Linked DNA regions of Homo sapiens: all the other regions are linked to region 1. Evidence: fine-mapped expression QTL. A gene starts in region 1. Each other region holds a variant in brackets. All regions are shown on one strand. Distances are from middle to middle.

Region 1 (5,065 bases):
GGCTAAATTTTCGTATTTTTAGTAGAGATGGGGTTTCACCATGTTGGCCAGGATGGTCTCGATCTCCTGACCTCATGATCTGCCTGCCTCGGCCTTCCAAAGTGTTGGGATTTCAGGCGTGAGCCACCATGCCCGGCCTTTTTTTTTTTCTTTTTTTTCTTCTGAGACGGAGTTTTGCTCTTGTTGCCCAGGCTGGAGTGCAATGGTGCGATCTTGGCTCACTGCAACCTCCCCATCCCAGGTTCAAGCAATTCTCCTGCCTCAGCCTCCCGAGTAGCTGGGATTACAGGCACCCGCCACCACGCCTGGCTAATTCTTGTATTTTTAGTAGAGATGGGGTTTCACTGTGTTGGCCAGGCTGGTCTCGAATTCCTGACCTCGTGAACTGCCTGCCTCGGCCCTCCAAAGGGCTGGAATTACAGGTGTGGGCCACCGCGCCCAGCCAAGTTTGGATTATTTTTACAAGATGATGCTGGAGAGTTTCTATGGCCACCACCATTCTAGACTCTGATACTGGCACTTAAAGCCTGCATGCTACATTTCCTGGACGCCGTTGCCAATTGGCAACGTTCCTGTCATGCTTTATTAGAACAAAGTTGGGAGGCAGAAAGAGGGGAGAAACCATTTTTTCAGACTTCTGCCAGTGGCTTAGGTGGTGGTGACAACAACAACTGTGACTTTCGCAATCATGGTGGAGGCAACTGTGGCTAGCAAGGGTGAACACATCTGGGATCCTTCTGTAGGCACAGTGATTGTGGGTTATGGGTCCTCCTGTGCTTTATTTATTTATTTATTTTGAGACGGAGTTTCGCTCTTGTTGCCCAAACTGGAGTGCAGTGGCGTGATCTCAGCTCACTGCAACCTCCGCCTCCCAGGTTCAAGTGATTCTCCTGCCTCAGCCTCCCGAGTAGCTGGGATTACAGGTGCCCACCACCACAACCGGCTAATTTTTGTATTTTTAGTAGACACGGGATTTCATCATGTTGGCCAGGCTGGTCTCAAACTTCTGACCTCAGGTGATCCATCCACCTCGGCCTCCCAAAGTGCTGGGATTACAGGCGTGAGCCACTATGCCCAGCCACCTCCCCTGCTTTAATCTTTCAGCTCTAGAGAGGCTAGCAGCCTCATATAGTTATGAATCTTTAGGTAAACTTACCTTCCTCTTTTGTTCTTCCAGTACTTCCAACACTTTTATACTCAGTCCCCTGTAGTCGTTTATGTATTCATTTATTTTTATTTATTTATTTTTTAGACAGAGTCTCGCTCTGTCACCTAGGTTGGAGTGCAATGGTGAGTTCTCAGCTTATTGCAACCTTCCCCTCCCAGGTTCAAGCAATTCTCCTGCCTCAGCCTCCTGAGTAGCTGGGATTACAGGCACCTGCCACTGCACTGGGTTAATTTTTGTATTTTTAGTAAAGATGGGGTTTCTCCATGTTGGCCAGGCTGGTATCAATCTACCTGTCTCAACTGGATTGCTGGGATTACAAGTGTGAGCCACAGAGCCTGGCTCAATCCCCTGTATTCAATATCCTCTGTTTGAAGTACCTAGAAGGACTTCTCTTTTCCTTATGGAATACGTACTGATAAAGCACTCAAGACTGTTAAAAACCTTCATTACTCTATTGATGTAACAAAAGAAGCTGAGGCAAAGTTAATATAAGTAGAGAGTTTGGGCCAAGGTTGAGGACCGCAGTCCAGGAGACACAGATTCAAGTTGCCCTGAATGTATGCTTTGATTAGCAACAGTTACAAGTGGGTTCTTTTTGTTTTTGACTTTGTTTTGAGACAGAGTCTCACTCTGTCACCCAGGCTGGAGTGCAGTGGTGCAATCTTGGCTCACCGCAACCTCCACCTCCCGGGTTCAAGTGATTCTCTGGCCTCAGCCTCCTGAGTAGCTGGGACTACAGGCATGCACCACCACACCTGCTAATTTTTGTATTTTTTTTAGTAGAGATGGGGTTTCACCATATTGATGTTTCACCATACTGGCCAGGCTGGTCTCCAACTCCTGACCTCATGACCCTCCCACCTCGGCCTCCCAAAGTGCTGGGATTACAGGTGTAAGCCACTGTACCTGGCAACAAGTGGGTTCTTGTCTTATTTATTTATTTATTTTTGAGACAGAGTTTCGCTTCTGTTGCCCAGGCTGGATTGCAATGGTGTGATCTTGGCTCACTGAAACCTCTGCTTCCTGGGCTCAAGCAATTCTCCTGCCTCAGTCTCCTGAGTAGCTTGGATTTCAGGTGCCCGCCACCACAGCCAGGAGGACGCCTTGCGGGGCAGGGTGAGGGGGGCAGGGTGCGGGTCCCCCAAATTAGCGCGCACACACACACACACACACACACACACACACTGCGATCCTAGGAACAGGGCGCTTTGCGGGGCAGGGTGAGGGTCCCGACCCTCCGCGGGGTGGGCGACCGCCTCCCCAGGCGCACTGGCAGGGGGACGGCATCCCTAACAGAGAACCAGGCCTCGGCATGGGCTGGAGGGATGACACAGCATGGTCGACTCGGACAGCGGCCAGCGGCATGAGAGTCCGAACAACGTTGGAAGGAGGAGTAGGGGAACGGGCAAGAGAGCACGGAAGACGCAGATGCCTCAGGCCCAGCCCCTCCAGGCTGCGTGTGGGCGGCCCCGCCCCTGCCCCCGCCCCTCCCGGCCTGACTGCACATGCGTGGCCCTGTCTACGGCCCCGCCCTCTCCCGGGACAGGCGGCCTGCGCACCGCCCTCCCGTCGTCCCAGTGCGCACGCGTGGCTGCAGCCCCGCCCCCGTTCCCCCGGCGCTCGGAGCCCGAGTCCGCGGGAAGATGGCGGCGCCGCTCATCCCCCTCTCCCAGCAGGTACGGGCCGGGCGGGCCTGGGGGCGGCGCCGGGGTGCGGGGCGCGAGGCGAGCGGTGCGGCGAGGCTGAGGCGCTGGGAGACTCAGCCAGGCGGCGGCGGGGGCGGCGCGTGCTGAAGGGCTTGCGGCGGGCGGGTGGGCAGGCGGCCCTGAAGGTGACAGGCCGGGACCCGCGGCCTCCCGTGCCCGAGCGACCCTCGCGGGCACCGGCGAGGCGAGGAGGTGCGCAGCGCGTGTCCTCTCCGCCCAGGGCCCGGACCCTGCCGCCGCTGAAGCTCCCAGGCCGGGGACCCGCGGAGGCGCTGGGCTGCATCCCGGAGGGGTGGGCGAGGGGTGCGAGCGTTTCTGTCGGCGCGGCGGCCCAGCGAGTCTTTGTCTCCCTCCGGTCCCGGCGCCCGGGCGGGCAGGGTCCCGCCGGAGCCCGGACCCGTCAGCAGCAGTGCGATCTCAGACTGATCCCCTGCCTCCTTGGAAGCTGCTTCCGCCACCCCTGCACCGGGCGCAGATCGTACGTCTCCGGGCGCCTCTCTGTGTCCTCAAATTCGCCTGATGCGCTTATGAAGGGGCAGTATCGATAGCGCGACACAGACATGCGAAAAAGAGCCATGCGTAGGCAGCTCTGTTATTTGGGAGAGACTTTCATTCATTCATTTTCTATCCATCCCTCAAATGTGCGTTGGGTCAGGTGCTGGGAGCGCTGCATTCTTCCAGACAGACAAGGTCGCTGCTTTCCTGGAGGTGACACTCGTGGGAACTAGAAACTACCTGTGTTATGCTAATCACAGCTGCCTTTATTTGCTGAATACCTGTGTTGTGCAAAGCACCATATAAGCATTTTGCTAGAATGATCTAGCACAGCATGGTGATTAAGAGTGAGGACACAGGGTCAGATCATGTGTTCAAATCTTGGCTCCAGCCCCGATTTCTCTGTGCCTTTGGTTGAAGCTCTTAGCCATTCCACCCATCAGTTGCTTCCTTTGGAAAATGGAGATATAAAAATGTGTTGGGATTATGTGAAAATTAAGCACGTGAAAAAGCGCTTAGAACAGTGCCTAGCATATGAGAGGCACTCAGTGATCCTATAATTACTGTCATCATTTAATCTCTGCCAGATTTGGACGTTTGGGAGTAGAGACCGCAGCAATTAAGAATTCCAAACCCAAAGAGAGTTGATAGGCCGGTTGCATGCTTGCATGACTGGTTAGCTGATCCAAGGAGAGAGAAGTGCACAGCTAGCCAATTTGCAACACTGTCACTAAGTTAACAGTGCTAAAACCCGGTGATTATTAATTAGCAAGTTCTTGTTACTGACATGAAAGTGCTCTGTAAACTGTTAAGTGTCCTACCGATAATAGGTGTTAATAGCTAAGTGCTACAGTTTAGAGTATGTAGTCAGGGGGTGGGGGGCGGGGAAGGCGGGAGTCGGGGGAAAATCACCTAAGATCATTTCATGAGAAAGCACTAAGCACTCCCAGTTTGGGAGGCGTGGATCTTTCTAAAACTTCCTGTCCAATTTTTTTTTTTTTGAGATGGAGTATTGCTCTGTCACCCAGGGTGGAGTGCAGTGGCATGATCTCAGCTCACTGTAACCTCCGCCTCCCGAGTTCAAGTGATTCTCCTGCCTCAGCCTCCTGAGTAGCTGGGACTACAGGCACGTGCTACCACACCCGGCTAATTTTTGTATTTTTTTTTTAGTGGAGACGGGGTTTCACCATTTTGGCGAGGCTCGTGTCAAACTCCTGAACTCGAGTGATCCACCCGCCTTGGCCTCCCAAAGTGCTGGGATTACAGGCGTTAGCCACTGCGCCTGGCCAGGTCACTGACTTCTTAGCCTCTTCCTGTTCCTTTCCCTATACATTTGTTGAATGAAGGCGTGGCCTGGTTTTCTTCGTTTGGAAATGTCAGCACTTCTTTACACTTGCTCTCGAGTGAAAATCTACACCATGGGTTACTGTTGGCCCAGGTGTGAGGCATGGCCCTCCCAGGCCCTTACTGTCTAGCTCAGGAGATCACTTGGGTTCACAGATAACTCTGGGGGAACCAAGGGTATAATTCCAAAATTTTTGGTTGGGGGCAAAAGGGAAGCACCCTGCAGCAGGTGGCTGTGATCTGGTTGGATTTAGGTGACAGAGCACACTTGGCAAGCAGATGGCCAGGTGAAGGTGAGCAAAGTGGATAACCCAGCGGGCTAGCCTAGGGGAGGAGGGGTGTGTTTTCTCCA
Region 2 (5,065 bases), 120 kb after region 1:
TTGCGTGTGTGGCTGTTCCCGGGAAACCTCTTCCCTCTCTGGTATTTCTTTAAAAGCAGGCCTTTCTGTCTCAGGCAAATGTGTGTATTAGGAAGTGGCATTTCTAGGTTAGCGGAACGGTTCTTTTGGAAGTTCGCATTAAGAGTAGTGCAAATACCAGATCAGCTAGGCCGTGCTTCGAATTATTGAAGGAGTTGGATACAATTTCATTGTCGGTAAATGAATGAATGGGAAGTGGCTAGGCATGTCCTGCACATGGTGGGGTGGAAGTGCCATCAGACACCTTGGAGCGCCAGTGAGGACAGGTGCCGGGCGCCTCCCGGGGCCATCCCATCGCCCAGCGTGCCGAGCTGTCTAAACTGCGGATTTCCAAGAGGCTGCTGAAATGAACCACTTATTTGCTTCTGAAAATGAACCCCATCCTGAGTGGGCAGGCCTCGGCTAGGGTGGTGTCATGCCCCTACGGTGTCTCGGTTCCATGGTAATGCCAGAGGGAAGCAGAAATCAGAGCCAGTGTGTTTCCCAGCCACTATTGGTTTTGCATCGGCCACAGACATCCAGATTCTGGCCCGTGTGACCCACCCAGATACGAGAACTAGAAGGTGGCCCCGTCCAGGGCTAAGACAGCAGACACAGAGGGAGCTGCGGAGTCCCCTTTCAGGAGAGCTCTCCCAGGCCTCACAGCCCAGCGTGCCTCCTAAGTGCATACAGACCTCACCAATGCAAGTCTCCACAGTGGATTCGTGAGCTGGCCTTGAACCGGTCGACTCTGAAGGCACCAGGAACTTTCCTGCTGACACCTTTCATTTGGAAACACAGACCCGTCAAGGGAAGGCGCTTCAGTGACACTGTGACACGGGGGCTCAGTGGGGCCAAAGGCGGCCAGAGGGCTGTGGTTCAGACCCAGCAGGCCGGTTACTTGGTCGTTCCAGGCTTTGATTTGGATCCAGGCGAACATTACTGTCAGCTCCCACCCACCCTGTCCTCAAGGCTGGTGGAGGGTGAGGTCCCCGTCAGCTGCACTGTCTCCCTCCCACTGTTGTCAGCAGCACCATGGAATAATTTCCACCTGCACTTGTTGGTTTTTCCTTGTTTTTCTCCCCATGAGGTGTTGGAAAATTCCCCAAACTGGGGCGGGGGGGATGCTTATCTGTGCCCCTGGCAGTGACACAATGGCGGGGAGGGAGTCCGACCTGGAGACTCATCAGACCCCCAAGTGTTTAGCTGGGCAGTGCCTCTTTAAGAAGTCAAGACTCAGCCCTTCCTCCCAGGGACATCTTTTCTTGATACTGACACTCCGCCTGTCCCCCATCTGGGTCCTGAGGCCAGCTAGAGGGAGGCCTCCAGGGCCCCGCATCCCCCTCACTGCCACATCTGCCTCCCAACCAGGTTCCTTGCATTTATCTGCTCCTGCACCTTGCCCAGTCCCCCCAGCCCTGCCATCTGGCCCTCCTCTCTCCTGCTTCCCGCTCATGCCACCATCAAGCCGTGAAATATCCAGACGCTGCCAATCTGATCACCCAACTCGCTCGCCCAAGGAGCCTCCACGGGGAAATCCCAGCTCCTTCCTGGGGCCCACGAGCCCCTCCTCAGTCTGGCTTATCCCACCCCACGCTTCATCCTGGCTACCCCAAGGTCGGGCACTGAGCCTCACACCCAGAACCTCGCAGGGACGCATCCTCCCTGTCAGTTTCACCTAGTATCCTGCTCCCCACAGGCCTGGGGGGGAAAAAGTCTAGAGTGTGAGCCACCCCTTCCCTGGCCTCAGTGTCCCCAGCTGTCAGAGGGATGAGATGACAGCGGGCCCACCCCCAGGTTGTCACGCAGACCTAGTGCTGCGTGTGGTGGAGAGGCCGTGAGTGTTCCTGTGTGCTTCTTTCCCCCACCTTCCTGGGTTAGTCTGCAGGGCCCTCCTCGAGAGCCTGGGTCCTTGGGTCCTGGATCGTTCTGGGATTGTTTGTATATTTCTGCTCCCAAGGGTGCCTGGGGAAGAGCCACTGCGCATGTTATCTTTGGTGTTACTCCAGTGTTGAGCAGAGAGCTGGTCAGAGGCAG[T/C]GCATCGCAGAGAGACATTAATAAGGGAATCCTTTGAATCCCTAAGCAGCAGCAGCTTTCCTGAGGGGGCCGATGATGCCAGTGACCTCTCAGGGAAGTCTGGGACATTGGGACCCACCCTGGGGGAGGAGCTTGTGGGATGTGGCTTTTCTTTTCATGACTAAAGTACTTTGAGTTGTTTGAAATCACCTATCTCAGCATCAAGATGGTTTTCTCCCTTTTTTAAGTTTTTATTTTAACTGAACATTTTAGAAAAACACCCCACGGATAAAAACTTGACTAAATGGCAGTGTAAGTGCCACACCTTTTGTCAGTGTTCTGGGAGAAATTGACCCTCAGAGCCGGGTGCGGTGGCTCACGCCTGTAATCCCAGCACTTTGGGAGGCTGAGGCGGGTGGATCACAAGGTCAGGAGTTCAAGACCAGCCTGACCAACATGGTGAAACCCCGTCTCTACGAAACATACAAAAATTAGCTGGGCATGGTAGCGCATGCCTGTAATCCCAGCTACTCAGGGGGCTGAGGCAAGAGAATCCCTTGAACCTGGGAGGTGAATGTTGCAATGAGCCGAGATCGCGCCATTGCACTCCAGCCTGGCGACAGAGCGAGACTCCATCTCAAAAAAAAAAAAAGAAAAAGAAAAAGAAAATGACCCTCAGAGGGTCTCAGAGCTCTCTGGAGCATGGCTGGAGGTAGAAATACCACATTCCCAGAGTGCAGAATTGTCTGCGCCGTGGGGCTTTAGAGCCATGCACGCTGGAAGTTCCCCATCTTTGCACCTCTTGGCCACCAGCGTCAAGGGCCCATCCTCACTTCTCTGCGTGGGGCGGGGTGGCTGGTTTCTTTGAGGCCCAGAGGTCATGGTTAAGGTCACACTCAATCACATGCATCCCGTCCACTCTGCTTTCCAGATGGGGGGCCTGAGACAGGCTCGCACGCCCACTGGGCCCAGCCAAGACATGCTTATCCCCTGCACATCGGACCCTCCGCTGGGCGGTGGGCAGGACCCTGACCCCTCCCACGCATTCCCTGCCTCCCTCCAGCTTGCAGGTCCCAGCCCCAGGGCCACATCACCCACTCTCCGTTTTTCCTTTGCAGTTTGGCAATGAGGAGCAGCAGCTGGCGTGGGCCAAGCGGGAGAGCGAGAAGGCGGAACAGGAGAGGCTGGCGCGGCTGCGGCGGCAGGAGCAGGAGGACCTGGAACTGGCCATCGCGCTCAGCAAGGCTGACATGCCTGCCGCCTAGGCGAGGGCCGTGTGTAGGCGGGACAGGGCACGGGCGGGTTCCAGAGAGGGGGCAGTGCAGATGTCTATATATACACACACACACCGTCGCCACCGTACTCCAAGGACCGGGACTCGGGGGCTTGTTCAGGGTGAGCAGACTCGGCTGCAAGACCTGGAAAGGTCACATCTCCTGGGGAAGCCCTTACAGAGGCCTTGGCCACCACTTCTGCAGGTCCGTCTCTCCACTGTGCCATCCCCCCCGGGGCTGACTGCCTCCCGCTCTTCCTCTGGGGACGAACACACAGCGGTCAGTCGAGGAGAGGAAGCACCCAGGGCTTCCCCGCCTCCTCCCTACTCATAGCTGCAGACATCCCCACCCGCCCTCCCACGCATCAGTCAGACACTCCCCCAGTGGTGTATGCACTCGTTGTATAAAATGAAGTTTGAATGATTAATATAAAATATTTTAATACAAAACAAGAGAAGCTTCTTTAATCTCTGTAAACATTGTTTTCCCTGCATGGGTATCAGGAAGCAGATCAACCAGGTGGAACATTGCTCTTTAAATCTTAAGTTTTTACTTTTAAAAAAAATTTTTTTTTAAGAGATGAGATCTTGCCATGTTGCCCAGGCTGGTCTCAAACTCCTTGACTCACACAATTCTCCTGTCTCAGCATCCCAAAGTGCTGGGATTACAGGCGTGAGCCACCAAGCCCTGCCCATTTTTATGTTTTAACCAACTTTATTTTTTAGGACAGTTTTAAACCTGCAGAAAAATCACAAAGATACAAAGAGTTCCCATAAGCCCCTTAGACAATTTATCCTTAAAAAAAATTTTTTTTTGAAACAGGGTCTGAGCTCTGTCACCCAGGGTGGAGTGCAGTGGTGTGATCTCAGCTCACTGCAACCTCCACTTCCCCGGGCTCAAGTGATCCTCCCACTTCAGCCTCCCAAAGGGCTGGGATTACAGACATGTGCCACTGTGCCTGGCCAGTTTTAAATTTGCAGAAAGATCGCAAAGAAAATACGAAGGGTTCCCATAAGCCCCTTAGAGAGTTTACCTTATTTTTAACATCTTACATTACACATTACTTACATCCCAATTAATGAACCAATACGGATTCATTATTATTAACTAGAGTCCTTACTTTATTCAGAATTGCTCTGTTTTTTTGGCTGAGTGCGGTGGCTCATGCCTGTAATTCCAGCACTTTGGGAGGCCGAGGTGGGGGGGATCACTTGAGGTCAGGAGTTGGGGACCAGCCTGGCCAACATAGTGAAACCCTGTCTCTACTAAAAAAAAACAACACAAAAATTAGCCGCGCGTGGTGGTGCGCACTTGTAATCCCAGCTACTCGAGAGGCTGAGGCAGGAGAATCACTTGAAACTCAGGAGGTGGAGTTGCAGTGAGCCAATATCATGCCATTGCACTCTGGCCCAGGCGACAAGAAAGACACCGTCTAAAAAAAAAAATGCAGGTAGGGCACGGTGGCTCACACCTGTAATCCCAGCCATTTGGGAGGCCGAGGCAGGTGGATCATTTGAGGTCAGGAGTTCAAGACCAGCCTGGCCAACATGGTGAAACCCCGTCTCTACTAAAAATACACAAAAAATAGCCGGGTGGTAGTGGAGCATGCCTGTAATCCCAGCTACTCGGGAGACTGACGCAGGAGAATCGCTTGAACCTGGGAGGTGGAGGTTGTGGTGGGCCAAGATCGCACCTCTGCACTCCAGTCTGGGCCACAGAGTAAGACCCTGTCAAAAAAAAAAAATTCGTTTTTCCCC
Region 3 (5,065 bases), 21 kb before region 1:
GATGGTTGCAGTCCACCAATGACTCCCGATTTGGGCATTTTAGACTTTCGTCGGGCAAGTTTTATGGTCATAAAGAGAAAGATAAAGGTTAGTGTAGAATCAGGACCAAATTGAGCCTAATGTTACATTTCCATAGCAACCTCTCTAGGTAGTTGTGGCACAGCCAAAACGCTTTTATTCCCGTTTTACAGATGAAGACATTAAGGCAAAGGTAGAACTTAAGGGGCTCCTTTCCTTGTTTTTTTGTTTCTTCTCTCCTTTTTTTTTTTTTTTTTTTTTGAGACGGAGCCTTGCTCTGTTGCCCAGGCTGGAGTGCAGTGGCGCGATTTCGGCTCACTGCAACTTCCACCTCCCGGGTTCAAGCAATTCTCCTGCCTCAGCCTCCCGAGTAGCTGAGACTACAGGCGCGCGCCACCATGACCGGCTAATTTTTGTACTTTTAGTAGAGACAGGGTCCACGTTGGCCAGGCTGGTCTCGAACTCCTGACCTCATGATCCACCCACCTTGGCCTCCCAAAGTGCTGGGATTACAGGCATGAGCCACAACATCCAGCCTCCTCTCTCCTTTCTTTATTGCCAAAGATTCCTTTTTTTTTTTTTTTTTTTTTTTGGTAGTAGGAGTCTCGCTCTGTCGCCTAGGCTAGAGTGCAGTGGCACGATCTTGGCTCACTCAAACCTCCGTCTCCCGGGTTCAAGTGATTCTCTTGCTTCAGGCTTCTGAGGAGCTGCGATTACAAGCGTGCGCCACCATGCCCTGCTAATTTTTTTAGAGACAGAGTTTCACCACATTGCCCAGGCTGGACTCAAACTCCTGGCCTTAAGTAATCCACCTGCCTCGGCCTCCTAAAGTGCTGGGATTATAGGCGTGAGCCATGGTGCTTGGCCTATTATCATTATTATTACTTTTATTGGTATTAGGTCCCCTGAAGTCCAAGGAGACATATTCAGCTTATTTGGTATAATAAAATCATACTTGAAGCACTGTCAAATATGCAATGGTATTTAACCTTCTTTGGATTATATTTATATGAATGTGTTATTAGTAGGCATTACCAAAATTGCCCCTCTTAATAGACACTAGTCAAGTGCATTTGAGGATCAAGGGCCATGCCCCTCAGAAGGAAAAGGTTAGTGGGTACTTTTTCTCATTTTAATTTTCGTATTAAAAAGAAAAATAGGCCAGGCGCGGTGGCTCATGCCTGTAATCCCAGCACTTTGGGAGGCCTTAGGCGAGCGGATCATGAGGTCAGGAGTTCAAAACCAGTCTGGCCAATACGGTGACACCCTGTCTCTACTAAAAATACAAAAATTAGCTGGGTGTGGTGGCTCATGCCTGTAGTCCCAGCTACTCGGGAGGCTGAGGCAGAAGAATCACTTGAACCCGGGAGGCAGAGGTTGCAGTGAGCAGAGATCATGCCCCTGCACTCCAGCCTCAGTGACAGAGTGAGACTCCATCTCAAAAAAAAAGAAAAATATGGTCAGGCACGGTGGCTCACGCCTGTAATCCCAGCATGTTGGGAGGCCAAGGCAGGCGGATTACTTGAAGTCAGGAGTTTGAGACCAGCCTGGTCACCATGGTGAAACCCTGTCTCCACAAAAATACAAAAAAGTTAGCCAAGTGTGGTGGCGCACAACTATAATCCCAGCTAATTGGGAGGCTGAGGCAGAAGAATCGTTTGTACCCAGGAGGCAGAGGTTGCAGTGAACTGAGATTGTACCACTGCACTCCAGCCTGGGTGACAGAATGAGACTCCATTTCAAAAAATAAAAGAAAAAAATACAGAGATAAACATTACATCTTGTCGCCTGCACATTCTTCAGGGTACAACACAATGAGCTTTTACTTTTGTACAGGCAGGTCAAGATAAGGCAAGCGAATCACTTGAGGTTGAGACCAGCCCGGCCAACATGGCGAAACTCCGTCTCTATTAAAAATACAAAAATTAGCTGGGCATGGTGGCACACATCTATAATCTCACCTACTTCAGAGGCTGAGGCAGGAGAATCACTTGAACCCAGGAGGCGGAGGTTGCAGGGAGCCAAGATCATGCCACTGCACTCCAGCCTGGATAACCGAGCAAGACTCTGTCTCAAGAAAAAAAATATATATATATACAAATATTAGCCGAGCATGGTGGCATAGGCCTGTAGTCCCAGCTACTTGAGAGATTGAGGCAGGAGAATCACATGAACCCGAGAGGCGGAGGTTGCAGTGAGTCGAGATCGTGCCACTACACTCCAGCCTGGGCAACAGAGCAAGACTCTGTCTCAAAAAAAAAAAAAAAAAAAAAAAAATTCTAGCTTCAAGAGAGCTAATTCAAGCTCAAAGTTTAAGGACAACTGTGTGGAAAACACAGATCCCAAAGAATAGAAGTCA[G/A]TGTTCTGAAGTGTAGAAGTTTGGGATCATTTGTATAGACAAAGTTTAGAGAAGCTTAACAGAATTTCAGCATCTTTCTAGGCAAGGCTTGATAGATAATGACCATGATCCCATTAGTCAAGGTGGTCTTTTTCTTTTGAGAAGGTATATTTAACATTTCACCCTGAAGATGTAACAGTCACGGCATCTTTTGTGCCATCTGGTCTGAGTTAGGTACAGGTCAGTCCTGGAGGCAGTTAATCTGTAACTAAGGTCAGTGGTCACAAATAGAGGAGGCCTGGTCTCTGGTTTGTCCTAGTCATTTGCCAAACAAGAACAATGAGGAAGAAGGTTTATCTATGATTTAAGAAGCAGAGGTTACACCTGCATGCTGCATGACTCAGATCACACAACTTGCTCAAGGTTTTTATTTATTTTATGTATTTATTTGAGAGAGAGTTTCACCCTTGTTACCCAGGCTGGAGTGCAATGGCGTGATCTCTGCTCACCACAACCTCCGCCTCCCAGGTTCAAATGATTCTCCTGCTTCCAGCCTCCCAAGTAGCTAAGATTACAGGCATGTGCCACCACACCTGGCTAATTTTTTTTTTTTTTTTTTTGAGACGGAGTCTCGCTCTGTAGCCCAGGATGGAGTGCAGTGGCGCGATCTCGGCTCACTGCAAGCTCTGCCTCCTGGGTTCACGCCATTCTTCTGCCGAGTAGCCGGAACTACAGGCGCCTGCCACCACGCCCGGCTAATTTTTTGTATTTTTTTTTTTTTAGTAGAGACAGGGTTTCACGTGTTAGCCAGGATGATCTCGATCTCCTGACCTCGTGATCCTCCCGCCTCGGCCTCCCAAAGTGCTGGGATTACAGGCATGAGCCACCGCGCCCGGCCTAATTTTGTATTTTTAGTAGAGACAGGGTTTCTCCATGTTGGTCAGGCTGGTCTCCAACTCCCAACCTCAGGTGATCCGCCCGCCTCGGCCTCCCAAAGTGTTGGAATTACAGGCGTGAGCCACTGCGTCTGGCTTATTTATTTTTTTAAACGGAGTTTCGCCCTGCCACCCAGGCTGGGGTGCAATGGCTCCTCCATCTCCCAGGTTCAAACAGTTCAGCTGCCTGAGCTTCCCGAGTAGCTGGGACCACAGGCACGCGCCACTACGCTCGGCTAATTTTGTATTTTTAGTAGAAATGGAGTTTCCCCACGTTGGCCAGGCTGGTCTCGAACTTCTGACTTCAAGTGATCCACCCGGCTCAGCCTCCCAAAGTGTTGAGATTACAGATGTGAGCCACCATGCCTGGCCTCTCAAGGCTTTAAATTGTATTTGCTTTCACATATGTGAAAGTTTAGGCCAGGCACAGTGGTTCACACCTGTAATCTTAGCACTCTGGGAGGCCAAGGTGAGTGGATCACTTGAGGCCAGGAGTTCAAGACCAGCCTGGGCAACGTGGTGAAACCCCATCTCTACTAAAAATATGAAAATTAGCCAGGCATGGTGTCGCACGCCTGTAGTCGCAGCTACTCAGGAGGCTGAGGCAGGAGAATCGCTTGAACCTGGGAGGCGGAGGTTGCAGTGAGCAGAGATTCAGTCTGGGCAATAGAGCGAGCCTCTGTCTCAAAAGAAAAAAGAAAAGAAAGAAAGAAAGTTTAGTGTCCATTAAGTTTCACTGGAACACAGCCACATCCATTCTTTTTTTTTTGGAGACGGAGTCTCACTCTGTCACCCAGGCTGGAGTGCAGCGGTGCAATCTCGGCTCACTGCAACCTCCGCCTCCTGGGTTTAAGCGATTCTTCTGCCTCACTCTCCTGAGTAGCTGGGACTACAGGCACATGCCACCACACCCCGCTAATTTTTGTATTTTTAGTAGAGATAGGGTTTCACCATGTTGGCCAGGCTGGTCTCAAACTCCTGACCCCGTGATCCGCCTGCCTCAGCCTCCCAAAGTGCTGGGATTACAGGCGTGAGCCAGCATGCCTGGCAGTCCATTCATTTATATATTGTCTATGGCTGCCTTTTATGCTGAAAAGGCAGAGTAGAATGTTTAGGAAAGGGACCAGTCGGGCACGGTGGCTCACGCCTGTAATCCCAGCACTTTGGGAGGCCGAGGCAGGCGGATCATGAGGTCAGGGGATCGAGAACATCCTGGCTAACATGGTGAAACCCTGTCTCTACTAAAAATACAAAAAATTAGCTGGGTGTTGTGGCCAGCGCCTGTAGTCCCAGCTACTCGGGAGGCTGAGGCAGGAGAATGGCGTGAACCCAGGAGGTGGAGCTTGCAGTGGGCAGAGATCGTGCCACTGCACTCCAGCCTGGGCGACAGAGCGAGACTCCATCTCAAAAAATAATTAATTAACTAATTAAGAACAGTGGTATATTAAGAACAAAAACTTCCAGGTGTGTGAAATAAAAGTTGTATGGGCCAGGCACGCTGGCTCACACCTGTAATTCCAGCACTTTGGGAGGCTGAGACGGGCAGTCACCTGAGGTCAGGAGTTCAAGACCAGCCTGACCAACATGGAGAAACCCTATCTCTACTAGAAATACAAAAATTAGCCTGGCGTGGTGGCTAATTGTAGTTGTAATCCCAACTACTCAGGAGGCTGAGGCAGGAGAATCACTTGAACCCGGGAGGTGGAGGTTGCAGTGAGCCGAGATCACGCCATTGCACTCCAGCCTGGGCGACAGAGTGAGACTCCATGTCAAA
Region 4 (5,065 bases), 21 kb after region 1:
TTTTCTTTCTTGGATTTCAGCTTTTTTTATTGTAGATACAGAGAGTACATGTGCATATTTGTTACATGAGAGTATTGCATGATGCTGAGGTTTGGAATACGGATCCTGTCACCCTGGTAGTGAACATAGTACCCGATAAGTCATTTTTTTTTTCTTTTTTTTGAGATGGAGTCTCGCTCTGTCGCCCAGGCTGGAGTGCAGTGGCTCGATGTCGGCTCACTGCAAGATCCGCCTCCCGGGTTCACGCCATTCTCCTGCTTCAGCCTCCCGAGTAGCTGGGACTGCAGGCGCCTGCCACCACGCTGGGCTAATTTTTTGTATTTTTAGTGGAGACGGGGTTTCACCGTGTTAGCCAGGATGGTCTCGATCTCCTGACCTCATGATCCGCCCACCTCGGCCTCCCAAAGTGTTGGGATTACAGGCATGAGCCACTGTGCCCAGCCCAAATGGCCTTTAAACACATTAAAAGTTGATGGCTGGGCATGCTCACACCTATAATCCCAGCACCGTGGGAGGCCCCGGTGGGAAGATCTTTTGAACCCAGGAGTTAGAGACTGGCCTGGGCAACAAAGCAAGACCCCGTCTCTACAAAAAATAAAAAATAGTAATTAGCTGGGTGTGGTGGCATGCACTTATAGACCCAGCTACTTGGAAGGCTAAGGAAGGAGGATCCCTTAAGTCCAGGAGGTTGAGGCTGCAGTGAGCTATGATGGCACCACTGTACTCTAGCCTGGGTGACAGAGCAAGTCTCTGTCTCTATGAAAAATAAAATAAAGCCCGGGCGCGGTGGCTCACACCTGTAATCCCAGCACTTTGGGAGACCGAGGCGGGCAGATCATGAGGTCAGGAGATCGAGGCCATCCTGACTAACACGGTGAAACCCCGTCTCTACTAAGAAAAATACAAAAAAATTAGCTGGGCATGGTGGTGGGCACCTGTAGTCCTAGCTATTCGGGAGGCTGAGGCAGGAGAATGGCATGAACCGGGGAGGCGGAGCTTGCAGTGAGCCAAGATCGTGCCACTGCGCTCCAGCTTGGGGGACAGAGCGAGACTCCATCTCAAAAAAAATAAAAAAATAAAAAAATAAAATAGATGTAGAGGGAAGGGTTTAATGAATTCCCATGTACCCACTGCCCATTTACAACAGTTATCAATATTTTGCAGATTTCTTTGTACCACCCTTTGATCTTTTCCCCCACCTACGTATATTTTTAGTTCTTAGGTTTTTTTTTTTTTTTTTTCAGATGACATTTTGCTATGTTGTGCAGGCCGGAGTGCAGTAGCCATTCAGAGGCCCAGTGATCATAGCTCACTGCAGCCTGGAATTCCTGGCCTCAGGCAATCCTCCTGCCTTAGCTTCTCGAGTAGCTGGGACTACAGGCGAGTGCCACTACACCTGGCTCTGGCTTGTGTTTTTTTTTTTTTTTCGAGATGGAATTTCACTCCTGTTGCCCAGGCTGGAGTGCAGTAGCATAATCTCAGCTCGCTGCAAACTCTGCCTCCCGGGTTCAAGTGATTCTCCTGCCGCAGCCTCCTGAGTAGCTGGGATTCCAGGTGCCTGCCACCACGCTTGGCTAATTTTTATATTTTTAGTAGAGATGGGGTTTCACCATGTTGGCCAGGCTGGTTTAGAACTCCTGACCTCAGGTGATCTACCCACCTCAGCCTCCCAAAGTGCTGGGATGACAGGCGTGAGCCACTGCACCCAGCCTCCTGTTGTGTGGTTTTTTTTTTTTGAGACGAAGTCTCACTCTGTAGCCCAGGCTGGAGTGCAGTGGCGTGATCTTGGCTCACTGCAACCTACGCCTCCTGGGTTTAAGCATTTCTCCTGCCTCAGCCTCCAGAGTAACTGGGATTACAGGTGCACGCCACCGCACCCAGCTAATTTTTTTGTATTTTTAGTAGAGACAGGGTTTCACCATGTTGGCCAGGCTGGTCTTGAACTCCCAGCCTCAGGTAACTGCCTGCCTCGACCTCCCAAAGTGCTAGGATTACAGGTGTGAGCCACCGTGCCTGGCCTGTTTTTTTTTAATCTTAGAAATTGTAGGCCAGGCGCGGTGGCTCACGCCTGTAATCCCAGCACTCTGGCAGGCCGAGGCGGGTGGATCACGAGGTCAGGAGATCGAGACCATCCTGGCTAACATGGTGAAACCCTGTCTCTACTAAAAAATACAAAAAATTAGACGAGTGAGGTGGCGGGCACCTGTAGTCTCAGCTACTTGGGAGGCTGAGGCAGGAGAATGGCGTGAACCCGGGAGGTGGAGCTTGCAGTGAGTGGAGATCTCACCACTGCACTCCAGCCTGGGCGACAGAGCAA[A/G]ACTCCATCTCAAAAAAAATAAAAAAAATAAAATAAATAAATAAAAGAAATTGTATTTCAACATGCACCTCTAACAGTTAAGACCGTTTTCCTTTACATAACCACAATGCCTTATCACACCTTACACAACTAATAATAACGCCTTTGGTATTGGTATTATCTGATAACAAGACCATATTCACATTTCCCTGATTGTCTGCAAATGTCACCTTGCATTTGGTCATTAGGTTTCCTAAGTCTTTAAAGAAAAAACAAAACTTCTCATTTTGAGATGATGGTAGACTCACTTGCAGTTGTTGGAGAGTCTGGGCGGGCGCGGTGGCTCACGCCTGTAATCCCAGCACTTTGGGAGGCCGAGGCAGGCAGATCACCTGAGGTCAGGAGTTCAAGACCAGCCTGGCCAACGTGGTGAGACCCGGTCTCTACTAAAAGTATAAAAACTAGCCGGGCACGGTGGTGGGTGCCTGTAATCCCAGCTACTCGGGAGGCTGAGGCAGGAGAATTGCTTGAACCTGGGAGGCGGAGGTTGTAGTGAGCCAAGATTGCACCACTGCCATCCAGCCTGGGCAACAGAGCGAGACTCTTGTCTCAAAAAAAAAAGAGCCTGTACCATTTATCCAGTTTCCTCTGAAGCAACATTTGCATAATGGTGGTACAGTATTGCATCTGGGATATTGATGATGATGGCTATGTTCAGGTTCTGAAGGAAGAGTCCTGGATTCTCTGGGGACCCAAATGACCACCTTGCGAGACCAGCAGAAGTTGGACATGCCCTGGCCAGGCGTGGTGGCTCACGCCTGTAATCCCAGCACTTTGGGAGGCTGAGGCGGGTGGATCACCTGAGGTCAGGAGGGCGAGACCATCCTGGCCAACATGGTGAAACCCTGTCTCTACTAAAAAATACAAAAATTTAGCCAGGTGTGTTGGCATGCATCTGTAATCCCAGCTACTTGGGAGGCTGAGGCAGGAGAATCACTTGAACCTGGGAGGCGGAGGTTGCAGTGAGCCGAGATCGCACCATTGCACTCCAGCCTGGGCAACAAAGTGAGACTCCGTCTCAAAAAAAAAAAAAAAAAAAAAGAAGATGGACATGCCTGGGGCTCACGGCCTCCGTCCAGCCCAGACAGAACTCAGGGCCTGCAGTGGGGCATGACACAGGGGTAAGGCATGCGTTCCCTGCCCTGGAGAGGAACCGAGAAGCAATAGAACCACCCCTGAGAGTTTAGACATTCAGCAAAGCAGCAAGGTGAATGACATGGACTGGGGAGGGCATCAGAGCACGGAATCAAGGTTTGAAAGCTTTTTTTTTCTTTTTTAAGAGACAGCTCTGTTGCCCAGGCTGGAGTGCAGTAGCACGATCATAGCTCACTGCAGCCTTGAACTCCTGGGCTCAGGTAATCCTTCTGCCTCAGCCTCCTGAGTAGCTGGGACCACAGGCATGTGCCACCATGCGTGGCTATTTTTTTTTTTTTGTAGAGATAGGGTCTTGTTGATAGCCAGGTACAGAACACGTCCCTCCTGTTGCCCTTTTATAGCCACACCCACTTCCCTCCCAGCCCATCTCTTCCTTATCCCCGGCAACCACCACTCTGTTCATTTCTACAATTTTATCATTTTAATGATGTTATGTGATGGAATTATTCAGTATGTAACCTTTGAGGTTTGGCCTTTGTCATTCAGCATAATTCTCTGGAGAGTCATCCAGATTATTGCATATGTGTCAGCTGTTCATTCCTTTTCATTGCTGAGTAGTATTCCATGGTGTGCTTGGACCACAGTTTGCTGAACCACTCACTTATTGGAGGACATCCGGGGTGTTACCAGTTTGGAGCAGTGACATATAAAGCTGTGGCCAACACTGCATACAGGATGTGGTATGAACATGACTCTTCATTTCTCCCGGGTAAATGCCCAGGACAGTTGCTGGTTCATGCGGTAGTTTCATGTTGTGTTTAGTTTTTTTTTGTTGTTGTTGTTTTAAGAAACTGCCAGTCTGTTTCCAGAGTCACCGTACCTTTTAACTTTCCCATCAGCAGTGTATGAGTGGCCCAGTTTGCCTGCATCCTCACCAGCATTTGATGTTGTCACTATTTGTTATTTTAGCCACTCTGATAGCGTGCAGTGGCATCTCACTGTGGTTTTAATTTGCATTCTTCTTTTTGCTAATGATGTTAAACATATTTTCATACGTTTATTTGCCATCTGCTATATTTCCTCTTTGGTAAAATGTCTTTTTGCCTTCAGATCTTTTGCCCATGTTCTTTTCTTCTTCGTGTTTTTTTGTTTGTTTGTTTGTTTGTTTGTTTGTTTTTTAAGAAATCAGATCTTGTTATGTTGCCCAGGCTGGTCTTGAACTCCTGGGATCAAGCAATCCTCCTGCTTTGGCTTCCTGAGTAGCTGGGACTACAGGTGTGCACCACGACGCCTGGCTAGTTTTTTAATTTCATGTAGAGATGGGGTCTCACTATGTTGCCCAGGCTGGTCTGGAACTCCTGGGCTCAAGCAGTCCTCCTGCTTTGGCCTCCCAAAGTGCTGGGACTACAGGTACGCACCACCATGCCTGGCTTGCCCATGTTCTAATTTGATTGTTTTCTTTTTTATGCTGTTGAATTTGAGAGCTCTCTAGTATATATTTTAGATAGTAGTCATTTGTTGGATATGTGCTTTGCAAACCTTTCTTTCTAGTCTGTAGCTTGCCTTTTCACCTTTTTATCTGGCTTTTTTTTTTGAGACGGAGTCTTGCTCTGT
Region 5 (5,065 bases), 36 kb after region 1:
CTTGGCTCACTGCAGCCTCCACCCTCTGGGTTCAAGTGATTCTCCTGCCTCAGCCTCCCAAGTAGCTGGGATTTCAGGCACCTGCCACCACGCCTGGCTGATTTTTATGTTTTTAGTAGAAATGAGGTTTCGCCATGTTGGCCAGGCTGGTCTCGAACTCCTGACCTCAGGTGATCCACCTGCCTCGGTCTCCCAAAGTGCTAGGATTACAGACATGAGCCACCACACCTGGCCAGGATAAGTCCATTTTAGTGTATTCATTTAAGCGATGTCCCCAAGGTGAGTCCAGTTCAGCCCAACGCTCCAAGGGGTTTTTGCACGGACGGCCTTCATTGTTGAAGTGCACATCCTCTTTCCCTGAAGCCTGCTGTTAGAGACAGCTCCCCCTACCCTCACTGGCGATATGCTGTTTACTCCTTCCCTTTCTTTGGACTTGCAGGGTTTCTATGTTGCACTGAGACTGGTGGCCTGTGCACAGAGTGGCCATGAAGTTACCTTGAGCAATCTGAATTTGAGCATGCCACCGCCTAAATTTGTGAGTGTCCAAGTCCTTCAAGTTCACATTCTTCTAATACCAGATGTGTGTGTGTGTGTATGTGCATGTGTGTATGTGCATGTATATTTCCATGTTTTCTCTAGCCTTCCCCTTTTATTGTGGTGAAATTCACATAATAGAAAATTAATAATTTTAAAGTGAACTATTTAGTGGTATTTAGTGCATTTACAGTGTTGTGTCTTCATTACCTCTGTCTAGCTCCAGAACTTTTTCATCCCTCCGCAAGGAGACCCCATCCACATTAAGTAATCACTCCTTGTCTCCCCCTCCCAGTCGCTGGCAACCACTAATTTTATTTCTGTCAATGGATTTGCCTGTTCTGGACATTTCCTATCAATGGAATTCTCTAACATGGTCTTTTGTGTCTGGCCTCTCTCTCAGCATCGTGTTTTCAGGGTTCATCCATGTTGTAGAATGGATCAGTGTTTCCATATTCCATTTACTGGATGGACCACATCTTTATCCATTCATCTCTCTGGACATGTGGGTTATTTCCACCCTTTTGACTGTTGTGAATAGTGCTGCTACCAGCATTCATGTACAAGGATTTGTTTGGACATCCGTTTTTAATTCATTTGGGTCAATACGTAGGAGTGGAATTGCTGGGTCATGTGGTGATTCTGTGTTTAACTTTGTGAAGTCTTCCCTTTTTTGAAAGCACTTTGAAACGTGTATCCTTTTCAGCAAACCCACCCACCTATGATTTAATTCTGTGCCAGCCACAAAGGAATGTTTCTCTCTCTTCTCAGCACGACACCAGCAGCCCTCTGATGGTCACACCGCCCTCTGCAGAGGCCCACTGGGCTGTGAGGGTAAGTGAACGGGAATAGCTCCCTCCTTGGCTCTCCTTCAGATAGAATTGTTCCAGCAGTTGTTCTAGAATTGTTCTGGAATTGTTCTAGTTTGATGTTGTTCAGAACATTTTATAGGATGATTGTGTCAGCTCTTCTGTCTCAGTGTGAGTGGCCACAGCACTTGGATGAAACGCCTCTTCTAATGAACACCTTTTACAAAGGCTGTGGCCCTTCACTGGAATTGGGAGTTGCCTACCTGGACAACTAAGTGTCAGGAGTTGGATTATTAAAGGGCTGCAGTTTAAATCTTGCATCTTTAGGTCACATTCTGTGGTTTTTGCTGCTTGTGTTGGTTATTCAGAATAGAAGAGGAAACGGTGAGAGCTTGCAAGCACGTGGACCCCCAAATGTGTCCCTTGCTTTCTCGCTTCTTTCCAGCCACTTTGCATGTTACCATTCTTTCCTCCCTGATGTTCTGATTGCTTTGTGAAAAGCCTCTCTCAGCACTTGAAGTGTTATTTTTAAAACAGAGGATGTTGTGGCTGGAAAGATAAGCTACTGCGTCCAGAAAGAAGAAAAAAAACGAGGGCTGTCTTCTAAGTACAGAATTCCTTCTAAAGGAAGTGAGCATGGTCCCTCCAAGTAACATCAGGCCTCCTCACCTTCCCTTCACTTTCAGACTGTCACATTTCCTCACGTTTATGTGGCTTAAATCCTGACATGAATAACACTCTTGCTCTCAAATAAAGGTCCCAAGCACTTTCGTCCCATGTTTACACGGTTGGTTTGCTCCCTTCTTGGAGAGGTCATGGGCTGGGTGGGGGTATCTGTGCAGGGAGAGGACATGAAGATATGTCATGTGACTGAGGAGTCATGCAGTCACCTCTGTCATCAAGCACTTTGCCAGTGGCAATCACTGTGGTGAAGGGTTTCTCCCTGTCACCCAGCGCATTGTGTGGACTTTGAAAAAGAGCTACTTTGTCATGGGAAACAGTGCCAAGAGATCTTATACTTTAAAATGTGATGGCTCTTTTCCACCAGGGGTTATGTCCAGGCCTCACTGGAAGAGCTGGGACTGAGGGGCCTGGGGACCTCGCAGAGAGGAGTCAGGGAGCACAGGACCAGATGCTGTAATTGGGGTGTACTGTGGTCGAGAGAGATTCTGCATTCCATTCACAGCCACAGTCAGAAAGAACAAGCCCGAAGTGCCAAGTGTTTGTTTCCGTTGTGAACATTTCTGGGCTTCTGAAGGCACTGAGTCAGCAAGTCCGATGGCCAGGAGAGGATCCCAGGCCCCCGAGAAAGACCTGCAGCGCTCAGCTTCTTAGCACCAACA[G/A]CTGTGAAAGCATGCGGTGTCTGCCGGTGATCTCATCTCTGTGACTGAGGGCTCTGTCTTGGTTTTTGTCTTTTAAAAATTAAAAAATTTTTATTGTGGTTGAAAGACACATCATGTAACATTTACCATCTTAACCATTTCTAAGTGTACAGTTCAGGAATGTTAAGTTTCCTTTGGAGGGTGGAACAGACTGGAAGCCACTGCCTCACTCATGGCCCCTTTTACGGGCTGCCTGCCCTATGTCTTTCAGAACAGCAGGAACTGTGACTCCCCATCCTAATGCTGTACCTTCCCTCTGTTCATGAAGAGCTATTCCTATTTACGTATTAATTTATTTACCATTAGAAATGGAGGGCTTCCTGTATGTGGCTGGGCTTGGTGGCTCACACCTGTAATCCCAGCACTTTGGGAGGCCGAGGCAGGCGGATCACTTGAGGCCAGGAGTTCAAGACCAACCCGGCCATCATGTTGAAACACCATCTCTACAAAAAATACAAAAATTAGCCGGGCCTGGTGGCGCATGCCTGTGATCCCAGCTACTCGGGAGGTACGAGTGCTGAGGCACGAGAATTGCTTGAACCTGGGAGTCGGAAGTTGCAGTGAGCTGAGATTGTGCCACTACACTCCAGCCTGGGCAACAGAGCAAGATTTTTGTCTCAAAAAAAGAAAAAAAAAAAAAAAAAGAGGACTTCCTGTACTTTAAGTTGATTTTGATAATTATTTGCTCAAGCACTAACATCTGCTCACACTTTTGTCTTTCTGGTACAAGTGGGCTCCTTGGAGGCAGGTGAGACTGATCTTTGTCTCCCTGCAAAGACACTGCCCCACCATGGGAGACTCCTGCCACACTCAGGCAGCAGCTAGGACGAAGGACAAGACCCGGGGCCAGGGCCTCCCTCCTGAGGACCTTGGCTCCCAGATCCGAGGTTGCCATAACGTTATTTCCTTCAGGGTATATGTTCACTTTGGAAACCAAGGGGCCAAGACTGTTCTAAGATCATTTTGTGCTTTTAGCCAAGGGTGATGATGGGTCCGTGGCCATTTTCACTTGGCTTTCGGTCAGAGCTCGGTCTGGACATTCACACAGGTGTGCTCTCCTACTTACTCGGGCTATTTCTTTCCAACTAGGTGGAAGAAAAGGCCAAATTTGATGGGATTTTTGAAAGCCTCTTGCCCATCAATGGTTTGCTCTCTGGAGACAAAGTCAAGCCAGTCCTCATGAACTCAAAGCTGCCTCTTGATGTCCTGGGCAGGGTAAGTGGGCCACGGGCTTGGTTCTTCTGCACTCAGTGTCCCTGCTGTGTGTGGGCGCCACTGTTCTCTTTCCCCATGGTGCTTACAAGGCTCTTGCTCTGTTTTCTCCCTGTGCCATCAGGGGCTTTCATCAGCGCTCCTGTGGGTCCAGCCCCAGCTGGCTCAGGGCTTCCTAGGGTGTGGCTTACAGTGTTCACCCAGTCCCTGGGGAAGGTGCCAGAATCCTTCCACTTCACAGATGAGGAGGTGGACTCAGAAGTGAAATTGCTGCCTGGGGCTTTGGGACCAGTAGAGCTCAGTCTTAAGCTCCCCAACTTGGGCTTTCCCCCTTTCCATTGTGCTGAATGTGGGAATGTGTGTCTGTGTCTATTTATTTATTTATTTATTTATTTATTTATTTATGAGATGGAGTCTTGCTCTGTTGCCTAGGCTGGAGTGCAGTGGCACGATCTCGGCTCACTGCAACCTCTGCCTCCCCGGTTCAAGCAATTCTCATGCCTCAACCTCCCAAGTAGCTGGGATTACAGGTGCATGCCACCACGCCCAGCTAATTTTTGTATTTATAGTAGAGATGGTGTTTTACCATGTTGGCCAGGCTGGTCCCAAACTCCTATCTCAGATTCACCCGCCTCGGCCTCCCAAAGTGCTGGGATTACAGGCGTGAGCCACCACACCCGGGCTTTTTTATTTCTTTTTTTGAGTTTTTAGAGATGGGGTCTCACTGTGTTGCCCAGGCTGGTCTCGAACTGCCAGGCTGAAGCCATCCTCCCACCTCAGCCTCTGGAGTAACTGGGACTGCAAGAGCACCACCACTCCTGGCTCTTTTCTACTATTAATTACTCTTTTTCTTCTGATAAAGCTCAAGGTAAAAGTATTTTCAACTCTGCTGCAAATTTAGGAAAAATTTTATGCATTCTCTTTAAAGAAAGTCTTAGCCTGGTGCGGTGGCTCACGCCCGTAATCCCAGCACTTTGGGAGGCCGAGGTGGGTGGATAACTTGAGGTCAGGAGTTCGAGAACAGCCTGGCCAACATGGTGAAACCCTGTCTCTACTAAAAAAAAATACAAAAATTAGCCAGGTGTGGTGGTGTTCGCCTGTAATCCCAGACACTTGGGAGGCTGAGAC
Region 6 (5,065 bases), 570 kb before region 1:
GGGTCGGCAGGTCACGTCCATCAGCTCCCTGAAGAGTCCTCCAGGATCACGCCTGCTGCGTGGCTTGGCACAGCCTGCATCACGACAACACGGACTTTCCATCTTTACTGTCCTTTTGATCACTTCTGCAGGGGGATAGCTCAACTTACAAACCACGTAAATATTTTCCTTTCGGCACCAAACTTTCCCCTGGGGAGCTGGAAGCCCAGCTGGGGTCTTTTTGTCTCTGGCCTCCGGGTCCAGGGCTGACCTGGGATAGGAGCATTTGTACCAGCCTCCCGGAGTTGCAGTGAGAGGTACCGGCAGGTTTCAGGGACAGGAGGCTGTTAGGACTGCCACCCACCACATCTGGTGTGAGGGACCACAGGATGGAAGAAGGCAGATATGCGGAGTTCTGAGGCAGGTTATGTGGGCCCTTGGAGTTGCTGAACCAAAGTACACCTGCAATCATAAAGCCAATTAAGATGTTTGTTAAAGAGGCTGGGCATGGGGCCGGGCACGGTGGTTCACGCCTATAATCCCAGCACTTTAGGAGGCCGAGGTGGGTGGATCACGAGGTCAGGAGATGGAGACCATCCTGGCTAACACGGTGAAACCCCATCTCTACTTAAAAAATACAACAAAAATTAGCCGGGTGTGGTGGCGGGCGGCTGTAGTCCCAGCTACTCAGGAGGGTGAGGCAGGAGAATGGCGTGAACCCGGGAGGCGGAGCTTGCAGTGAGCCGAGATTGCGCCACTGACTCTGCCTCAAAAAAAAAAAAAAAAAAGAGGCTGGGCATGGTGGCTCACACCTGTAATCCCAGCACTTTGGGAGGCCGAGGCAGGTGGATCACTTGAGGCCAGGAGTTCAAGACCAGCCTGGCCAACATGGTGAAACTCTGTCTCCAGTAAAATACAAAAATTAACCGGTGTGGTGGTGCATGCCTGTGATCCCATCTACTCAGGAGGCTGAGGCATGAGAATCGCTTGGACCTGGGAGGCAGAGGTTGTAGTGAGTCAAGATTGCACCACTGCACTTCAGCCTGGGAAAGAGAGGGAGATTCCGTCTCAAAGAAAGAAAAGAAAAGAAAAGAAAGAAAAAGAGAGCTGTGTCCAATGCTTCTTGTAAATCAAATAAAACAAGCACACAAATAGAACATTCAATTAAGGAAATTGTCTATCATTGGTAACATTGATGAAATCAGTTTCAGGGGAGTGATGGGGAGGGAGAGAAACAGCTTGATTGGAAAGAAATGAAGGGGGAACGGGAGGAGATAAATTGGAGAACTTAAGACCAATACCAGAAAAATAAAGCAGACCCATACAAAAACCAAATAAGGCTGGGTGCAGTGGCTCATGCCTGTAATCCTGGTACTTGGGGAGGCTCAGGAGGGAGGATCGCTTGAGCCCTGGAGTTTGAGGCCAGCCTGGGCAACATAGCTAGACCCTGCTTTACAAAAAATATAAAAATTAGCTGGGTGGGCCAGGTGCGGTGGCTCACGCCTGTAATCCCAGCACTTTGGGAGGCCGAGATGTGCAGATCACAAGGGCAGGAGATCAAGACCATCCTGGCTAACACGGTGAAACCCAGTCTCTACTAAAAATACAAAAACAAAATTAGCCAGGCGTGGTGGTGGGCACCTGTAGTCCCAGCTACTTGGGAGGCAGAGGCAGGAGAATGGTGTGAACTTGGGAGGCGGAGCTTGCAGTGAGCTAAGATTGTGCCACTGCACTCCAGCCTGGGCGACAGAGCAAGACTCCGTCTCAAAAAAAAAAAAAAAAAAAAAAAAAAAGCTGAGTGTGGTGGTGCTCACCTGTATGTAGTCCCAGCTACTTGGGAGGCTGAGGCAGGAGGATCGCTTGAGCCCAGGAGATGAAGCCTGCAGTGAGCTATGATCATTCCACTGCACTCCAGCCTGGGCGACAGTGAGATCCTGTCTGAAAAACAAAACAAAACAAAACCCCCAAAATCACAATGCTGAGTGAAAGAAGCTAGTCACGAAACACCACATAGTGTGAGATTCCATTGATATGAAATGCCCACAACAGGCAAATCCATAGAGACAGGAAGCAATGAGTGGCTGCCAGGGGCTTTGGGAGAGGGAATGGGGAGTGACTGCTAATGGGGACGGGGTCTCCTTTTGGGGGATGAAATGTTCTAGAATGAAATAGAAGTGATGACAGTTGCACAACTGTAAGTATACTAAAATCTATTGATTAAATAGATCTTAATCAATAGTAAATCTATTGAACCAGACACTTTCACTGGGTCAACTTTGTGGTATGTAAATTATACCCCAATTATACTCCCAAAAAAAGATGGCTGGAGGAGGGGCAGTGTGGGTGCCCTCCAGAGCCAAAGCTTATTGGAGCCCTGGCAGGTGAGGGGCTGCTGGCTGGGAAGCGGGAATGAGCCAGCCGGGCTCACAGGGCAATGAGAGTCCAAGTCCCAGGGTAGGGCAGGGATGGCAGAGGCTGTGGGCTGGATGGGGGCCTGGGGAGCTGAATGGCGAGGGTGCCTCAGAAGGTTTGCATGAACAAGTGATGAAACAAACGTCTCCTCCTGCAACATCCCCCCGACCCCCACCCTGCCCCACCACCATGATCCAGCAGGAGCCAACTCCTCCCTCCCACTCCTGGGCTGCCTGGTCCCAGTGTCCCTAGGCTGCCGTTTATGGAACATTGACTAGGTCCAGGCTCAGGGCTGGCCTTACATTCCTGGGTTCCCATCCTCACCGGTGCCCTGTGGGGTGAGCCCTGCTGTCAGAGTTTCTAGAATGCACCTGTTTGGAACTGATCTGCCAAAATATTGGGAGCCACTGAGAGCTGGGCCAGTCTCCAGCACCTGGTATGCTGGCCTGGGTGGGGGCGGTGTCTGT[G/A]GACATTTGGTGATGGGAGGAAGGAAGGGAAGGAAGTGGTCACCTCACCTGGGGGCTATGTCCCTGTCTACCTCACCTGGGGGATTTCTATGCCTGTCCACCTCACTTGGGGGATTTCTACAACTGTCCTCCTCACCTGGGGGATTTCTACACATGTCTGCCTCACCTGTAGGATTTCTACACCTGTCAGCCTCAGCTGGGGGATTTCTACACCTGTCCACCTCAGCTTTGGGCTTTCTACGTCTGTCCATCTTACCTGGGGGATTTCTACATCTGTCCATCTCACCTGGGGGATTTCTACATCTGTCCATCTCACCTGGGGGATTTCTACATCTGTCCATCTCACCTGGGGGATTTCTACACCTGTCTGCCTCACCTGGGGGCTTTCTAGGCCTGCCCACCTCACCTGTGGGCTTTCTACGTCTGTCCACCTCACCTGTGGGCTTTCTACACCTGTCCACCTCACCTGGGAGATTTCCACGCCTGTCCAACTCACCTGGGGGATTTCTACGCCTGTCCGCCTCACCTGGGGGATTTCTACACATGTCCACCTCACCTGGGGGTTTTCTATGCCTGTCCACTTCACTTGGGGGCTATTTATGCCTGTCCCCCTCACCTGGGGGCTGTCTACCACCTATGTCGTCTAGGAGGCCATGCACCTACCCGTCTTATCTGGAGGACCATGCCCCTGTCTACCAGGGGCTGTCTACACCTGTTCACTTCATCTTGGGGGTTGTCTACTTCATTTGGGGGTTACCTATACCTGCCTACCTCACCTCGGCAGGCCATGTACCCACTCAGCTCACCTGGGGGGCCATGTGCCTGCTTGCCTCACTCAGGGGCTGTCTACACCTGGGTTGGACAGGCCATTGGCCGGAGTGGCCGTCTCCAGGCTTAGCTCCAATAGACAGAGGCCTCCTGCGGGGCTGGACGAGGCCACCCCCAGGGAGTTAGAGGGTGGCGAGCCCCCTCCGCAGCCCCTAGCATGTGCTTGGAACTGCTGGCAGCCTGGTGGCTCCTCAGCTTCTGCCCGGTCCAGGTTGTGTCCGGAACATTTCTGGTACTGAGCTGGCGTCTTCTCCAGGACAGATGCTGCTGGCGGAGCCGAGGCGGGCCAGGGTGTTCACTGTGGTGCTTTTATTTCCAGCCTGCTTGCCCAGAAGGCAGAGCTTGCCAGGGTGCCTACTGGGGCTGAATCGTGTCTGGGCCTCAGTTTTGTTTTCTTTTCTTTTCTTTTCTTTTCTTTTCTTTTCTTATTCTTTTCGTTTCTTTTCCTTTCTCTCTCTCTCCCACCCTGCCCCTCCATTCTTTCTTTCTTTCTTTCTTTTTCTTTTTCTTTTTTTTTTTTTTTTGACCGAGTCTCGCTCTGTCGCCCAGGCTGGAGTGCAGTGGCACAGTCTCGGCTCACTGCAACCTCCACCTCTTGGGTTCAAGTGATTCTCATGCCTCAGCCTCCTGAGCAGCTGGGATTACAGGCACCCACAATCACGCCCAGCTAATGTTTGTATTTTTAGTAGAGACAGGGTTTCACCATGTTGGCCAGGCTGGTCTTGAATTCCCGACCTCAAGTGATCCTCCCTCCTCGGCCTCTCAAAGTGCTGGGATTACAGGTGTGAGCCACCGCACCTGGCCAGGGCCTCGGTTTTCTTATTCCAGTGCTGTCCCAGGCCCCATTCCTGCTCTCATGTCACAGGAGCCTCTAAGAAGGAATGGTTGGGCAGAGATGCCACCTAAGAGACAGGAGATGGTGCCGGTCACCAGACCCCGGGCCCTGGGAGTGTCTGATGCAGAGCTGCACTGAGGGCTCAGGTGCAGGTAAAAAGGGCTGCAGGCAGCATCTCCACCCTTCTTCCCGGACAGACGCACACACCCCTGCCCTGCTCCCTGACACTCCTGCCCCACTCCCTGCCCTCCGCCTGTGCTCACCCTGTAGGGACACAGTGAGGTGAGCGAGTGTAGTTAGCTCCCAGGTGAGGTGGGTGGGGACATGGCCCCCAGGTGGGTGTGGGTAAATCCTAGGTGAGGTGGATGGGTGCATAGTCCTCAGGTGGGATGGGGAGGTGTACATAGCCCCCAGGCAACAGGGACTGGTGTAGACAGCCTCCAAATGAGGTGGGTAGAGACATGGCCCTCCAGGTGAGGTGGGTGGGTGCATGGACCTAGGTGAGGTGGGTGGGTGTAGTCCCTAGGTGAGGTGGGTGGGTGTA

Alleles and levels. Alleles are on the strand shown, and positions count from the first base shown. SD is a standard deviation of normalised expression in the study named. Not every link is listed here.
For the expression in monocytes after R848 of the gene that starts at base 2,787 in region 1, G is the high allele of the variant in region 4 and A is the other (small effect, 0.39 SD a copy in Quach 2016).
In carriers of allele A in region 6, the expression in CD4 T cells of the gene that starts at base 2,787 in region 1 tends to be higher than with G alone (large effect, 1.5 SD a copy in CEDAR).

Evidence for each region. PIP is the estimated chance that this variant, and not a neighbour inherited with it, causes the effect.
Region 2: its variant is fine-mapped to the expression of EPS15L1 in whole blood (TOPMed, PIP above 0.99).
Region 3: its variant is fine-mapped to the expression of EPS15L1 in whole blood (TOPMed, PIP above 0.99).
Region 4: its variant is fine-mapped to the expression of EPS15L1 in monocytes after R848 (Quach 2016, PIP 0.91).
Region 5: its variant is fine-mapped to the expression of EPS15L1 in whole blood (TOPMed, PIP above 0.99).
Region 6: its variant is fine-mapped to the expression of EPS15L1 in CD4 T cells (CEDAR, PIP 0.95).

The regions. Positions count from the first base shown.
Region 1 is chr19:16,469,692-16,474,756 of GRCh38, reverse strand. EPS15L1 (epidermal growth factor receptor pathway substrate 15 like 1) reads left to right here and starts at 2,787. Exons shown (of 24, transcript NM_001258374.3): 1 at 2,787-2,844. The coding sequence starts at 2,812. RefSeq lists silencers at 2,556-2,955, 3,016-3,235 and enhancers at 3,316-3,465, 2,698-3,609.
Region 2 is chr19:16,353,939-16,359,003 of GRCh38, reverse strand. EPS15L1 (epidermal growth factor receptor pathway substrate 15 like 1) reads left to right here. Exons shown (of 24, transcript NM_001258374.3): 24 at 3,153-3,757. The coding sequence ends at 3,299. Among named protein-coding and RNA genes, the nearest start is that of KLF2, 32 kb to the right of the region's middle. The variant T/C (reference allele first, on the strand shown) is at 2,056.
Region 3 is chr19:16,490,773-16,495,837 of GRCh38, reverse strand. It overlaps CALR3 (calreticulin 3), which reads left to right. Exons shown (of 9, transcript NM_145046.5): 2 at 1-87. Among named protein-coding and RNA genes, the nearest start is that of CALR3, 2.9 kb to the left of the region's middle. RefSeq lists an enhancer at 1-407. The variant G/A (reference allele first, on the strand shown) is at 2,378.
Region 4 is chr19:16,448,810-16,453,874 of GRCh38, reverse strand. All of the region lies in intron 1 of EPS15L1 (epidermal growth factor receptor pathway substrate 15 like 1), which reads left to right. Among named protein-coding and RNA genes, the nearest start is that of EPS15L1, 21 kb to the left of the region's middle. RefSeq lists an enhancer at 1-307. The variant A/G (reference allele first, on the strand shown) is at 2,318.
Region 5 is chr19:16,433,240-16,438,304 of GRCh38, reverse strand. It overlaps EPS15L1 (epidermal growth factor receptor pathway substrate 15 like 1), which reads left to right. Exons shown (of 24, transcript NM_001258374.3): 5 at 440-535; 6 at 1,306-1,368; 7 at 3,815-3,940. Among named protein-coding and RNA genes, the nearest start is that of EPS15L1, 36 kb to the left of the region's middle. The variant G/A (reference allele first, on the strand shown) is at 2,687.
Region 6 is chr19:17,037,063-17,042,127 of GRCh38, reverse strand. No RefSeq gene overlaps it. Among named protein-coding and RNA genes, the nearest start is that of CPAMD8, 13 kb to the right of the region's middle. The variant G/A (reference allele first, on the strand shown) is at 2,859.